Linked DNA regions of Homo sapiens. The protein of the gene in region 3 interacts with the protein of the main gene of each other region in a biochemical or structural test. Each region holds a gene or a part of one and is shown on either strand. Other genes may lie near its edges.

Region 1 (7,056 bases), on a different chromosome or scaffold from region 3:
CTCCTTGCAGAAGGTCTTTTGCTGCAGTTCATAGGAATCATAGTGAAAGATTACAACTGCCAAGGAAGACTGGGGCGCGCCTGGAGTGAGGATGACCTTTCCTGGTGGTCTCTGCTGGCTATTCTCAGTGAACTTCCCTTTGCATTTAGACGACATTTTGTTAGATTTCTGTTGGAGTTTTTTTAATGGACTTCCCACTATTCAGTCTCCAGAGGAGTATTTGATTCAGAGGAGAGGCCCTTAGGTGAAGTGGTGGCAGAGCCTGACACCAGGCAAACAATTGTTGTGATTGGAGTTTTGCTGTTTTGTTATCTCAAAGCAACAGAAACGTTGCTTAAATATGTTCATAATCTCCTCTCCCTGAAAGTAGAAGAACCAGCGTTTTTAGTTCTCAGTGCTTAAGGCATCCAGGGTTTTTTGGGTAAACAGGAAACCCCTTCACATCCCGCATAGTGTGCAGCTCTGGCCTGTTCCTCATCCCGCCCCCTTGCATTGCCTGATACCTCCTTGGTGTGCAGGACTCTCCTTAACCCCTGGGGGAGATCTTTTGAGTCATTGCTGTTCTTTGGGACATTTTCTTTCTCATGCAGCAGTGCCTGGCTGGGGCAGGGCCTTGAGGGGTTCATCCATACCTATGTATATCCTCAGAGAATACACAAGGTCATAGGCCTCACATTTGGGGGTCCCAAGTGCCATGGGGAATCAAGACAGTCTGGGCCAGAGGGTGGCACAGGGACAACTTGCTGGGCTGGTGGGGGCCTGTCAAGTGAGGCCTGGTGGAGAAAGGTTGAATTTGGAGGGCCAGGAACAAGCTGGGATGCAGGGGAGGCTTTCTAAACTCTACAGTGCTTCTAGAGATGACGAGGAGGTAGGGAGTAGAAGAGAGCTGGACAGATTAGGGAGCTCCCAGGGTGAGCTTGTGGGCAGGCCTGCAGAGGAGAAGAGGCTCTTCCCTAGGAGCTCAGAGGGATTTGTTCTGGAAGACTGATGGGAGATGTATGCAGCTGTTTAGAGGCTGCTTTGGAGAACAAATGAACATGGTTCTGGTTGTGCAAGCAGTTACTGTGGTTCTTTTTGCTCATATATCTTCCAATAAAGACATTGAGCGAGGAGAGTTGATACCGTCATGTTTTTGGAGCTTAAGCACAGACTGGCAGCTGCGGGCTGGATTCAGTCCACAGATATGTTGGGTTGGATCCGCACGTGTTCTTGAGGAAAAAAACAAAAGAATTGATGGTCAATATTGAAAAATCAGGAAGTCACTCAAAAATCTCAAAAGCCTGGTTCCTGATTTCCTTGAAAAATGAGAATCTCTGGTAACTCTGAGCGCTTGTTCCTGCCTACAAGGCAGCTATGGGCAGGAGTCAGGTGGCGGACACTCCCACAGAGCCCCTCACCACTCCCACAGCCAGCCACACCTCCGACGGCCCACTTGGACTTTTGACATTTGCGTTTGCATCCCCTCCTCGGAGAAATGATTCATGTTTGTTTGTTTTTGTCTGGACTTTGAAACCTTTGCCCCATCCCTTCATTGACTCATTACTCCATCCCTCATTCATCAGGGATTGAGCACCGGCTCCATCAGGCTCCGTACAAGGCTCTGGGGACTCAGTGGTGAACTCAGCAGATGTCGTGCTGCCTGCCCTGAATACAGGCATCCTCTGTGTGTCACAGGGTGAGCAGGAAGGTGGCAAGAGATCAGACTTGCAGTGGGGAGGGATGGTCAGGAAACTCCTGTGCTCCTGTGACAAAATGGGACTTAAGGTGAGAGGCGGAGGATGGGTCCACTTAGCTGGGCACAGGCAGTGGGGTAGGGGACCAGTCTCCTGGGGTGGGAGCAGACCAAGGCCTCCTCAGCTGAAGGGAAGAAGGTCCTTGGACTGCATGTGTCAGTTTCAGTCACTCATTCCTTTCTTCCCTCCTTCAGTGGCTTCACTCATCGCCTGCCTCACGGAGCAACCTCCTGAGGGCCTGGAGTTGTTCTTGTTCTTGGGACACAGCAAAGATCCCGGCCTCCTGGGCCATACCTTCTAACTGGGCTGGCCATAAGTTAAGCAGTTTTGTATGTATGTTTTTAAAGTCCCTTTCCTTCCTCTCTGTGCTCCCAGCGAACCACAGGCTGGCTGGGAGTTTCATCATTTACCAGACCCTCCTGCCAGCGCTGTAGCTCCTGTCACCTTGGAGCAGTTCACTGGGCCTGCTAAAGTGGCCACAGGCTTGCCCAGCACGCTGCCTGAAGATGGAATAAATAGGTGTCTCACGCTCAGTGTGCTACGGTTTCAAATGTGTGAAGATGCTTTTATTGTAAATCGAAAAGAAATTTATAATGACTGCATTTCATGGTCACATTTTTGTCATGATATATTTTCTCAGAACAGATACTAAGAGTACAGGCCCTATGATGTAGGGCTACTCATTTTTGTGGCCTGAGAAAGAGGTCCTCTTAGATTGGCAGTCATTGTATTTCGATCAATTTTAAACTCGTCAAATTTGTACTTCCTTTTTCCTCCATAGTTAGGAATTTTTGTCGTCAAAGTATACTCAGTCAAGCAATGAGACATTTTGATGGCACCTGCTCTGCCTCCTTTCACTCACCCGTTTTAACACTTACTGAGTGCCTCCTTGTTGGCAAACACCAAGTGATGCCTCGTGGCAGGGAGCCAGCAGGAACCTGTCCCTGGAGGCCACAGTCCAGGGGTAGAATCAGAACGATCTTGAACATCTCTGCAATTTCCTGTGGTTTTCAGAATGCATTTATAGACTACCTCATTTCATTTCATCCTCACAACAGCCCAGGGGGTGAGGGCAGGGCGGAGTATCCCTCTTTTGCCCCTCAGGGCAGCTAAGGCCCAGGGAAATTTGGTTGTTTGCCCAAGGTCATGCCCTGGAGAAGTGGAATGGGGAACCGGCCCCCTTTCTTGCCTTTATAGAGCACTGGTTAGAGCCTCCCTGGTTGCTGGGGACACAGCTTTCCATCTTAATTCTTCAGGCTTCTCAATCTCTTTTCTGATCTTTGAAAAAAAAGATCTACCAATGAAATTAAGGGAGGCTCACTACAGTCTTTAGACTGCGTCTGATACTCGTAATACTAGTCACATTAACAGTGCTGTAGAGAGATAAGAAATAGCACTAATGCCAGCTAAGTGTGTTTTTAGAAAAATCAACCACAGCAACCCCAAATGTTTCCTGGTCTCCAGAGCAGCTGTTGGCAGAGGCGGTTTGAATGGGATTCCTTGTAGCCAAGAGACCTTATAGGAGGTCTGTAGAGATGAGTCATGTGTGAGCTTGCAGAAAAATGTCTCCCAAAGTAGCCCGGATTGGAGATTGCCTTGAGTGCCAGGCTGGGTCTTACCTCAGGCCAGCTGAGCGTGTTCCCCATGGCCAGGATAAGATCACGCTCTGGAAAGAGGAGAGGCCTGACAACCCACCGCCTGCCCCACCCCGCGGCCGCCTCGCCGCCGGGACAGGTGTTCCTCTGACTCGTCACCCGTCTTGCCCCAAAGGCTGTTTTATGAGTAAATAAATAAAACCCACCGTTTGTGAATTATTAAGGGATCTGTCATCCAGCAGGCCAGTCATCTTAGTTTCTGGTCATCTGTTTGAGAACATCTTAGTTGTGTCCTTGGGTGATTCTTACCCTTTCCTGGGGCTTATTTTCCCCATCAGTGCCAGGAAGGAGTGGGACTCAAAAGGAGCGCTCCTCTGTTTGTGTTTTTAAGCTGTAGCCACTGCCCCCGCCAACCCCGCACCACCCCCCCCCCCGCCCCCGCCCCGGCTTTTTTAAATTTTAAGTTCTGGAATACATGTGCTGAACGTTCAGGTTTGTTACATAGGTATACATGTGCCGTGGCGGTTTGCTGCACCTATCAACCCGTCATCTAGGTTTGAAGCCCCGCATGCGTGACTGCAGGCCCTTTTTTATACATAAGAAGGCCATTAGGTAACCACTAATGGGGAAGCCTCTTTGAATGCAGTCCTTCCTGCTTAGCTGTGGCCGAGGCTCCTCCTTGGACCCTCCACCCCAAACACAATGTGAAAACCCACTTCCTCGATGCTCTCACAGCTGCCTCTACCAAAATCAACTTCCTCTGGGCTCTTTGTGCCTTCTCTTCCTCTAACATATAGTAAATTCCATGGAAATGCCCCAGATCAATGCTTGAGTAGAATGATGTTTCACTCATTCAAAATCAAAGCCCCAGTTTCCTTTCTGCAAGTTAAAAAATCAACAAGTGAAATGTTAAACAGATGATTAGCTCCGTGAGGGAGTGTGTCTACCACTGCGGTGCCATTACGGTGCCTTGAACGCAATAGGTGCTCAGTAAATACTTACTAAAAGAATGAGTGAATTTAGTTAATATTATCATAGAATGAATTTTAGTTTCTGGTTCCAAGTCTCAAATTATCTTTAGACGTAGCTTATTGTGGTTTCAAATTGCCAATTAGGATGTTTCTTGGTACATTAGTAGGACCAATATCTGATCAGTGGTGTGCAGTTAGTTGGGGGTTCTGTGTTTTCCTGTAGTCCTCTGAACACTAATGATGAGGTTAGGATCAAATTCCCAGAACACCACTGGGAGAACGCCAGGACACCGTGAAGGCTGAGCCGCCACTCGGTTCTGATGCCGCATCCATTGGTCAGTGCACGTTCTTTGAGCTTCCACTTGAGTGCACGTTCTTTGAGCTTCCACTTGAGTGCATGTTCTTTGAGCTTCCACTTGTAGTGACTGCCTGGTTCTTTGGGATGTGCAGGAGCAAAGCGCTCTTAGGTAATGCTCGTTCTGCCCTGTGTTTACAAACCAAGGCCTGTGCCAGCTCTACTCAGCCTGACACCCATAATGAGCACCATCCCAGGAATCCCTGTCCCTACTTGTTATTTTTTTTTTTTTCAGTTGGCCTTTGAATGTGATTTAGGACTGGCTTCCTGCAGCATTACTCTCTTTTCCCAGGATGACTGTGCAGCGTGTGCTGTCTAGGGCTGGGGTGCAGGCTGTTGGTGTGCCTCTGGCACCCCCTTCCTTCTTTGTCAAGAGGCATGGGCAGTATTTTCTTGCTACTTCCCCCTCCTCTGTGAGCTAAGGTACAGGGGGGGAGGTTCATCTGAATTTATTAGAAATCTGCTGTCTGCTGGTCACAATTCCTTTCTCCCACTTTCTTCTCCCAGGCTGTAGTTTGAAAGACAGGTGACAATTCTCTGAACCCAAGTCCCACCCTGCAGTCTGGACTGCTGCTTCCCGGAACACCACGACTCCTGTAACAGCTTAGACTTCTGTCCCCACAGTCCCTTAGCAGCAGCTTTCTCTTTGCTTTTCACTGGCTTGCCCAAACCACACAGTGACTTTACTGCATATTAAGTTTTGTGATCAGGCGATTCTGCAGTGCTTTTAAAGCGTAGAAATGGAGCACTGAGCACAGGATGCTGTGTGGTTTGCCCAGGGCTGGGTTCAGAGGGGCGGATTTCAGGCATTTGCTCTATAGCTTTTAAAATTTGTGCCACTGATGTGGACCTGACAGATGCGATTCCCAGCCACACACTGTATTGTTAAAAACGGAGCAGGAGTGTGACACTGACAGTAACTGAGAGAAGGAAGGACATGGAATGAGAAGAGAGGACAGCTGACATCCAGTGGAATGTGACCGTGTTAAATAGCCACTTAGCTGACCCCAAACGAGCAAACAAACAAAACCCCTGGTTGGAAACAGTGGTTGTATTTATTTGCTGGTTATCACATGCGCCCATCCTCCTTCAAGTGATGGTTCTGAATAAATAGATGGATGATTGTTCATGAGTCATGGAATTGGCTACTCTCAACCCCTCCTTTCAATAATAAATACAAATAATAGTAGTAGCTGATGTTCATTAGGCACTTACCACGTGCTGTACCAGGCTCGCTTCTGTATATTTTACACTTGTGGTTGCATTTAATCCTTACAATAGGAGAAAGGTACTGTTAACTGTTCTCATCCTACAGAGGAGGAGACTAAGACACAGAGCTTTTCTTTGAGACCTGAAAGAGTTAACATTTGCACATAGTCATATACTGAGTTGGGGCAAAGTTAGGACTAAAGCCCATCTGACTATTCCCCATGCATCTATATTTTTATTGATTCTGATATTATTCTCTTGGCTGTGTGACTTGGGTGAAAATGAGCCTTCATGTTTCCAGGGACCCCTCTGCCACAGAGGCAGCTGCTGCACTAACAGGACACCCCATCATCCTGAGGATTCCTTCAGAAGACAGCTCTCCTCCTGACTGTCCTGCTGGAGCTCACAGGGGGCTGCGGAAGCCTTGCTTCTGGCTGGGTGACCGTGGGCAAATTGCTTAATCTCCTGAGCCTCAGGTGCCTTTGTTGTAATTTGGTAGGGTGGATAAACCCACCCCGGAGCCCTTTCTAATGCTGGTTCTTCTTCTTTTTTTTTTTTTTTTTTTTTGAGATGGAGTCTCACTCTGCTGTTGCCCAGGCTGGAGTGCAATGGGGTGATCTCGGCTCACTGCAACCTCCCCCTCCCAGGTTCAAGCAATTCTTCTGCCTCAGCCTCCCAAGTAGCTGGGATGACAGGCGCCCGCCACCACGCCCGGCTAATTTTTGTATTTTTAGTAGAGATGGGGTTTCACCATGTTGACCAGGCTGGTCTCTTTGGCCAGGCTGGTCTTGAACTCCTGACCTTGTGATCCGCCGCCTCAGCCTCCCAAAGTGCTGGGATTACAGGTGTGAGCCACCTCCCAGCCTAAGGCTGGTTCTTTGGGAGTCTAGACTGCAGTATGTGGGGTGGACTTATTGAGGCTTGTTTTGTTGATGATTTTTAATGGCAGTAAATGTTGGATAGCACTTAACTAATCATCAAAATAGCTTTTGAAACATTTTTGTACACATTAGTTTCTTTGTTGTTTTGGGCTTTGTTAATTTGTTTCTTTTTTTTTTTTTTTTTTTTTTTGAGAGGGAGTCTCGCTCTGTTGCCCAGGCTGGGGTGCAGTGATGCAGTCTCGGCTCACTGCAAGCTCCACCTCCCGGGTTCACGCCATTCTCCTGCCTCAGCCTCCTGAGTAGCTGGGACTA
Region 2 (5,865 bases), on a different chromosome or scaffold from region 3:
ATGCAACAGAGGTCTAACTAATGGGATGTAAGTACAAACATGCAAGTGGAGCTTCTGGAAACTACTGTTTTGTTCTCTTTGCGTAGAAAGAGACACATATTTGCACCTTTTCCTTACCTAAGCCTATCCTTTTCACCCCTACTTTTGCCATCCTTGACAGCATCGTGGAGGAGTTACAGTATCAGCCCCGGACAGTTTTGTCTGTAGACTTTTCTACTGTAAGAAGAAAAAGAAACAGACAACAATAACAAAAAGACAAGCCCCAATTGAGTTTAAGCCACTGTTAACTTGGTATGCCATCAAACACAATTTTTTAAACCTAAACAATAGCTATGGTGTTTCACAGATTTGACATAACCAACAACAAATGGACCACTCCAATTTTTCTGGATAGTTAAAAAATAAGGCCTTCACACCAACACAGGTCCCAGACTGGCACTCTCGAATGACTAAGTTTGTAATTATTTCATCAGTTCCATACATTTATAATTAAGTACAGAGAAGATTAATGTAGATTCTTTATTGATTCCACCAATGTATTAGTAGATATGATAATAATAAATGGTATTTTTACATTCTCTTAACCAAAAATATAACAAATATTTACACTCAGTAAAAATACAAAAAGCATACAGAGGCACTGTCTTTCTAAAAGACATAAGTTTAAGAGGTATCAAAAAATAGGAGACAAACATTGCTTGTTACAGGATACCTTACAATCAATGAATTGTGCAGTAGAATTGCTATCTGATTATTACAGATGTGCAGTTTTGTTTCTGTCTTTTGCTGATTAGCTTACATGTCTCAATTTTAAAAGATCAAGTTCAACTGCATTCTGTGTATCAAAAATAAAGAAGCATTAAAAATGCACAACAAAAGTCAAAGATGAACCAGGATTCAAGTTTAAATTTGAACATGTACTGTGACACTTTTGACACTTTTCTGAAGATTTATCCCGTTTTTCTAGCCTTTAAGGTAATGCTGAAGGAATACATATACTTTAATATCACCTTTTTTAGAAACTTAAAATTGAATCAAAATAATCAGTTTTAAGGAAGCTTTTTCTCCTCCTTCCTTTTTTGTAGAGGAAAGAACACTTGATAAAAATTAGATTTGTTCTTAAAAACACCCATGATTACCATCACATTTTCAGCCTGGGAGAGATTCTCAAGGAGGTGATATAGATCGCAATGATGTGATTTATCACCCTCAAGAAAATTCACTAAAGGCTTTTTCTCCCCAAAGATCATATTGAAAGTAATCATTTGGAGTAAATTAGAATTATTAACTTTAATAAGCTTTTATGGAATCATGTACTGGATTTACTAATTCTCAAAATCTTTCACTATAAAGATATTTTGTTGAAACTTACTATTTGGCAAAAGTTTGCACTGAGCGTTAACTGCTTCAACAGTCTTGGCAGATTGAGAGTTGTGGCAGGAAGAGAGGGCACTAGTCTCTTCATTAAGATTATAAATTTATAAAACAAAAACAAATGGAGATCTGGAATTGGAGTAAATGCAGCTTAAGACTTCTCTTGTTCTAGTCATATGACAAACTAAGAGAAGGCAGGAATGTACCCTTAGTTAAAATATAAAAATCAAAACCTCATGATTTTTTAAGGGATACATACATAACAAACTACAAAGCATTTGGCTTTGGCTCCTGATCAATGTGATCAGCTGATCTGAACACTCACAGTTAAAGCTAGATAGATAAAACAAAGGCAGCTGTAAGGTGCAAGTCCAAAACCATAGGCCTCAACACTCTGTGCAAGATATTTACACTATTAAGGACAAAGACAGGTAAGGCTTCCATTTGGTTTGAAAGACCTGCTAAATAAAGACATTATGAAAACAGCACATTTTTCTGGGGAAATGAATATAAAATGGTGAGAGTAGACATCTGAATTTGATAAAAAAAGTGGGTATAGCAAAAATATATTTCACATTGTTTTGCTGTGGCCATGAAAACAAAATTATGCAAATCAGTGAAGGAAAAAATGTATAATCATAGGACCACTGTTTATAGGCCAAATCACTGAAGTGTAACTTTCAAACTAGGATTTTTGGTTCAGGTTATTTCCCATTTCAAAGGACCAAGAAAGCTATGGAACCACCAAGCCTCATTCTATCATACCTGCGATTAATTTCTAAGGCTTAAGTTTCAGATTAATGTTTCTTTACCACAGGAATTTTTGAAATGCTATTATTCCTAAAATAAAGAGACAATCATGTTGATGGGAAAGATGAACTACTACCATTTACCACTTACAACTGATTCATGATTTTAAAATGAAGGGGGATATGCAGGAAGACAGACAGCAGAGACAGCTAGGGAAAGACAACACATTTCTATAAAGGAGGCCACAAACCAACTAAATCCTATGTGGACACATACGGACAGCCATTCAGAAGTAAACCCCTTTTGGCTCCAAGTTGATCTGGGTAGTGCACGTTAATGGCTTTGGCTTTTTTTTTTTTTTTTTTTTTGGTAATTACAGAAGTTTATTAAAATTTCACTTGCTTTTACATTAAAAAAACTGAAAAAATTAAACTTAATATATATAAAATATATTTAATTTGCAAAAATGTGAAAAATCTGCCTCATCCAGTAAACAGTCACTGAAATTTTAATTAAGAGTGCCATACCCATGAGGCTGGAAAAGTATGTCCTCTCAAGGGCTAAAAACTGAGAACCAAGAGACAATCATTTCTGTAACTCCAGCTCCTCTTTCTCCCACAAAATGTTACTGCAGCCAGCTGAGAGCTGCAGGGTATGTCAGGTCAGACACAACCTGGTGCTATGAGATGTGGGGGAGGCATGCTGCAGAACACTGCATAAAGTCAAATTCGTCTTCATTATTACAACACCCATGATAAGAATTTCTTTAAAAAAAGTATTCCATACTTGAGTTATGAGAGATTTTAGTTTTGGGTTTCTATAGACCAGAACTCTCTAGAACCCAGTCTCTATTTGTTGGATCTATACTTTCAGTTACAATTCGATGCAGCATAACTTTCACTTAAGGAAGAATTTGTATACATGTCATTTAACATCAAAATTTCATTCTGTGGAAATTAGGGTTCCCACCCTCCTCCCCAAACTACTCCCTCCCATTTCCCAAAGGACTGACAAGAAACCCTGTGGCAGCTTCATTTGGCCTTCCACACCATGACCAGCAGGTTCCTAACACCTCAACTGCAAAGGGCTTCCTATTTCTCTCAAACTGAGACCTACATTGCATTGGTGCTACAGATCAAGTCACATCTCTGTGTAGATCAAGCATATCACCTCTGTAAAGATGACTTCTGTTTGGTCAGACCAGAGACAATTTTATGACCTCAAACATGAATATCAGCTAACAAGAGCTCTCAAATACAAACAAAACCACAACAATTCAAATAATAAGTTATTTTTCAAATATACAAGAATATCCTTGGTATTGGCAGACAATTTCAATTTGTCCTTCAGCCCAAGCTATGGCTTGGAAATAATAATGCCATTATCTTTAAAATAGCTTGTTAAAGAAAAATCTATAGCAATATACACAAGGATCACTCTGAGTTTACATTTTTTCTGTAACTGTGGTCCCAAGGCAGTTCCGGCGTGCAAAGTGGAGACTGGTATCCAGGCATAGCATCCATTGCTCAGGAAACTATTTATCTGCAGAAATTAAATGAAAGGAAGCATAACTCAGGTCTATTTCATTGCTCGGAGTAGAGGGAATAAAACCTCTGGACTGGTTGTAGCAATGAGCTGTTCGTTAGCAATGGCCTGCAGAATCATGAGGTGGTTCTTGCCCATTCCTCCACGACTTTCAGTGGTTTTCAAATAGGTCATCCAAAGGCTAGACTGCTGAAACTTGTTCATTTTCTGAAAATAAAAAATATATAATTAACTGGCAGATCAGCATATTAATGAGATCCTAATAATCTAGTTATCTATTTAGAAAATCAATGTCAACAAAGAAATCCTCTCAAACATTGCATCGAGGCCCAGATTTTATTATAATAATACCTATGATTTCTGATCACATTGAAGGTTGACAATAAACTGGAATTTCATGGTTTTTAATCATTTTATTACTCTTGTTTAAAAGCATAAATTTTCATTTATTTTCAATAAAACAATCATTTCTCAAACTATTGGCACAGGTACAAAGTCAGTCAAGACTTTTGCTAATAAAAGGAACTATATCAATAGAATCATTTCAGATAATTTGGCATTTGAAACACAGTTTCAAGTTTCCATGCATTAAGGTAAAATACAATTCCATTAATGTTAAAAGTATCCCATTAGATTGAGCCACTGTTTCATCAAAGATAAGAATATTCCATTTGAGCCACAGGGTACTAGGCACACAGAAATAGGCAGCTTGCCCATTTCATTTAAAAAATACACCATCAGTGCGGGGTACAGTGGCTCACACCCATAACCCCAACTTTGTGGGAGACTGAGGCTGGCAGATTGCTTGAGTCCAGGAGTTCAAGACCAGCCTGGGCAACATGGTAAAATGCTGTCTCAAATACAAAAAATTAGCTGGGTGTGGTGGTGTGTGCCTGTAGTCCCACCTACTTGGGAGGCTGAGGAGGGAGAATTACCTGAGACCAGGAAGTTGAGGCTGCAGTGAGCCACGATCATGCCACTGCACTCCAGCCTGAGTGACACAGCAAGACCTTGTCTCAACAAACAAACAACCCACACCATTGGCTGGGTGTGGTGGCTCACACCTATAATCCCAACACTTTCGGAGGCTGGGGTGGGAGGACTGCTTCAGGCCAGGAGTTCAAAACCAGCCTGGTCAATATAGTGAGACCCTGTCTCTACAAAGGAAAAATTTAACAATGAGCCAGGCATGCTGGTGTGCACCTGTAGTCCCAGCTACTTGGGAGGCTGAGTTGGGAGGACTGCTTGAGCCCAGGAGTCTGAGGCTGTAGTGAGTCATTATTGTGCCACTGCACTCTAAGCTTGGGCAACAGAGTTAGACCCTATCTTGAAAAATAAAACAAAACCAAAACACTCCCCCATACTATATTTAGGAACTTTTTTTTTTTTTTTGGAGACAGAGTTTTGTTCTTGTTGTCCAGGCTGGAGTGCAATGGTGCGATCTTGGCTCACTGCAATCTCTGCCTCCCAGGTTCAAGCAATTCTCCTGCCTCAGCCTCCCGAGTAGCTGGGATTACAGGCATGCGCCATAATGCCTGGCTGATTTTGTATTTTTTTAGTAGAGACGGGGTTTCTCCATGTTGGACAGGCTGGTCAGGAACTCCCGACCTCAGGTGATTCGCCCGCCTCAGCCTCCCAAAGTGCTGGGATTACAGGTGTGAGCCACTGCACCCTGCCGGCAGGAACTTCTTACTTTTTAACAGAGATTCAAGGCATTTAAAGAAACAATTACTAATTACCATAAAATACCAAAGTAAAGACCATTTAATGTGTTCAGCAATTCATTTAAGAGCCTTTAAGAGAGCTTGTCAACATACCATCTGCTTCGCTATCTGCATCAGTCACATCTCCTAGTTTAGGATGGAATGGCTGCAAATTATGCCTCTGAGGCTGAGTTACAATCTTCGATGGAACACAGGCCACGAGGTTGCTACTGAGAGAAGCTGGTGGCAGTCTAGAGAGGCTGTTATGCATCATCTTTGACCTCTGCACTGCCACACTATAATCTGGAGGTTTTAGGTGTGTGTGGGGTCCTTCCTTTAGGTCCGCTAAAGAAATCCCCAAATATCCTGGAGGAGTGGGAGGTGGCTCCCTATACCTATCGTCCTTCTTGGGTGAGGTGACACAGTACACTGGCATGAAAAATAAGCAATGAAAATGTTAATGAAAAAGAAATGGAAAAAAAAAGAAACCACC
Region 3 (3,403 bases):
GGGTGATACTACTTATGTAGTCTCTATAAAGAGAGGTAGAACAAAAAGCTTGTTAGCCAATTAAGTTCTGGAAAAGGAAAGAAACAAGCTTAGAAAACCCTGTGCCTTGTCCTCAAATATTAAGGAGGAGACAGACCAGTCCTAGAAAGTCTAAGTCATTGCTCAGGGATCTCTAGATACTGTCTCTTTGCAACTAGGTATGAAGAAGTGTTCATGCCTTGCTGAGATTTTCCAGGCATGTGGTCAGCCTGTCACTTACTAAACTGAAATTTTAAAATCAGGTTTCAAATGTTAAGCTTTGACCAACCTGAGAAAATGTTAAAGTATTGTTTTTAAAAAAATGGAAATTTTTTTTGTTTGTGTTTTTGTTTTAGTTTCGAATAAACTTAGTTACCTTACACTTCCCTTCTACTTATCCAATTATGCATATGTCTGGGATTGAGGGGCCAAAACTATAGCGAACTTGAATGAAGTATTAGGGCCAGTTGTCAGGTCAGGGTGGCATCTTTTATTTTAAGGTCCTCTAAAGTCATTCTGCTTTAAAACACCCCTCAAACATACCTTTAAACTTAAGATCATAGACAGACATCTCATCAACCAGTAAAACTTTCTAAATACTACCTTGTCACATCTATTGTGTAGTTATTTAACAGATTAAATAGAAGTCATTTAATAAGACTCCAAGTCTCAGTCTGCTTGACTAGTAGCATAAACTCAGTCTATTCTATTTTAGAATGTGGTGGAGAAAGATGATAGTTATTAGATTCCTTTGTCACATCTTATACAGTCCACTTGGGTTAAAGGTGGAACTGTCAAGAAAAACGCCTTTCTGGCACACAGTGATATGCAGAGCAGGACCAGCTGAAGTCAGATGTGCAAGGAAATCTGTGGTTGCTGAGCAGGATGAAAAGTATCCTGTTAGAAAGTGAGATAGGTGTGTTTTTATATTGTCCTAATGTGAACTCCTTAGTCTTGGTTCCAAAGGGAAGGGTACCTGAAAATAAATGTATTTTTATAGCTGAAAAATCAAGAGTTTCTAGGATATTGTGTGAATGTCAAATGATAAATATCTAGAAACTGATTTCATATTAGTATGTGTGGCTATTTAAAGTATAATGACTTTGGTTTGGTTATATGAGTGACACAGAATTTAAGGAGGCTTCATGCCATAGTTCATAGTTTGCTCTAATGGCTTGGTGGTATCCCTGAACAGTCTACTTTTAGAAATTAACAGTAAATACACAATCCAGCTGTAATCTTACCCTCCACCAGGGGGAGCTTCAACATCGGTTAATACTTTTTTTTTTTTTGAGATGGAGTCTCGCCCTGTCGCCCAGGCTAGAGTGCAATGGCTCAGTCTCCGCTCACTGCAACCTCTGCCTCCCGGGTTCAAACAGTTGTGCCTCAGTCTTCCAAGTAGCTGGGATTACAGGCACCCGCCACCACGCCCAGCTAATTTTTGTATTTTTAGTAGAGACGGGGTTTCATCATGTTGGCGAGGCTGGTCTTGAACTCCTGACTTCGTGATCCGCCCCCCCCTCAGCCTCCCAAAGTGCTGGGATTACAGGCGTGAGCCACCGCGCCTGGCCCGGTTAATACTTTCATAAGCATTGAAGTAACTATTTAAGTCCTAGTACATAAACACTGTGTGGTTCACAAAAAGGCATAGAGACATTCTCTCAAGAGTTTACAATCTAATTGGGCAGGGAAGATACTACAGTTCATCAAAGATATGAATAACACCCTAGTTTTCTGAACTGCAGCTGCATGGGTAATTATCTTAAGAACTTTTGGCAAAATATGGATGTTGGTGTGTTACTCTCTTCTCCCTACAACTCTGAACTAATCTGTGTTTGGCACCTTGATTTGCCATCATAAATGGCCACCATTTACTCCTCACTGAAATATTCTTCTTCTTTGAGGTTATAATGTACTTGGAAAAGTTAATACTTATAGAAAATAATGATCTTTATTACCAACTTTATTAAAACAGGCTTGGAACATTTTTCTCCATAGAAGAATAGTAATAAGACATTCTACATTTCCTGGACATGGCCAGTTTAAAATATTTTGCCCCATTACCCTTGTAGATACACATGTATTTGTCAGTTTATGTGCCTCAGTTTTGTCTTAGGCACTGAGGGACAGAAAGAGAAATAAGGAATACCTTGGTATTTTCCTTTGCAAGCAATCACAGCAGAATGCTAGAAAACATAAAATATACTCTTATAAATTGTATGTGTGTTGAAACCAAAGTGTGAAGAAATTGTCAGGTATTTGGAGGAGGAAAATAATTTGTAAAATAACCTTTTTAAGAATTTGGATTTTGTACTTATTTAAGGTGCTAAATATGTGTTAAAATATCCCCTCTTGAATCAGCTCCAGGCTTAAAAGGGCAGAGTGGTTTGGATTCTTGTCCAGGGTCTGGAAAGAGCTCATCTTGCCGAGAGGGAAATAAATGTGAGCTTTGAGGCGGTCTAACTACCCAGCTTTTAGTATTTATGTTCCCCAAAATGTAAAAACTGTAAGTTATTCTTGAAAATGTAGTCCAGACATTTCTTTGATCCTGGATTTTACTGCAGTTTCATCATGGGTTTGTTGAATGTGCAGTCCATTTATTGCCCTGTCTTGCTTAAATATTCTTGTTGAGAACAGCTGGAGGCTTTGACTGGGTTCCTAGTTCTGTTTTCTGGGAAGGCAACGTGGATTCTGTTTTGTAGACATTAATGAGCTTTAAATGGGAATTGGGGATGATGTATGTTCGTTGGGCATGCTGAGAAGCGGCCTCCTGTGGTTCTGGGCCCAAGGTGTGACATACATTTCCCACTAATTGCTTCTCTCAAGAAGCAAGAGATTGGCTGTTCCTCTTGAGGAAAAACCTTAATAAACCTTCCCATTTTAAACAGTGGTGTGACTCTTATTTTGAGCTGTTGTTTTCAATGAATTTTTTTAAAGCTTACCATGTTCAAATTTTTGTGCTGAATGTTGTAGGACATGCAAATCAGAACAGGACATGATCCTTAGGGGCCTACCAACAAATATTCATTGCACTTCTACTGTATGGCAAGTGCTGATCTGCATGCCGCGGAAACAACAGTGAACAGTACAGACTCAGATCCCTTTCCTCGTGGAGTTTTTATCTTTAGAAAATGGTAAAAGATAACTTGTGTAATGATGAGTGCTTTGAAGAAGAATTAAGCCGTGTAAAGGGGCAAGAGTACTGGGCAGAGGTGGTGGTAGTGGGTTAATATCTCATTGAAGTTGATACTCGAGTAAGTGTTCAAAGTGAGCAGCCCATGCAACTGCCTGGGGGAAAGGAGGATTTTCCATTCCTTGGGGAAAGGGTCTGTGCCAATGCCATGAGGTGGACATGTGCCTGGTGTGTTGAAGACTGGCAAGGAGG

The links.
Region 1: the proteins of RAP1A (region 3) and RAPGEF1 form a complex in vitro, tested with the Homo sapiens proteins (one study listed by BioGRID).
Region 2: of the proteins of RAP1A (region 3) and RAPGEF6, one has a biochemical effect on the other in vitro, tested with the Homo sapiens proteins (one study listed by BioGRID).

The regions. Positions count from the first base shown.
Region 1 is NC_000009.12:131,730,072-131,737,127, reverse strand, and holds part of RAPGEF1 (rap guanine nucleotide exchange factor 1), read left to right. Parts: intron 1-7,056. UniProt on the Homo sapiens protein: Guanine nucleotide-releasing protein that binds to SH3 domain of CRK and GRB2/ASH. Transduces signals from CRK to activate RAS. Involved in cell branching and adhesion mediated by BCAR1-CRK-RAPGEF1 signaling and activation of RAP1.
Region 2 is NC_000005.10:131,423,416-131,429,280, forward strand, and holds the end of RAPGEF6 (rap guanine nucleotide exchange factor 6), read right to left. Parts: intron 5,802-5,865; coding exon 5,487-5,801; intron 3,877-5,486; coding exon 3,851-3,876; 3' UTR 506-3,850; downstream 1-505. UniProt on the Homo sapiens protein: Guanine nucleotide exchange factor (GEF) for Rap1A, Rap2A and M-Ras GTPases. Does not interact with cAMP.
Region 3 is NC_000001.11:111,713,789-111,717,191, forward strand, and holds the end of RAP1A (ras-related protein Rap-1A precursor), read left to right. Parts: 3' UTR 1-2,903; downstream 2,904-3,403. UniProt on the Homo sapiens protein: Counteracts the mitogenic function of Ras, at least partly because it can interact with Ras GAPs and RAF in a competitive manner. Together with ITGB1BP1, regulates KRIT1 localization to microtubules and membranes.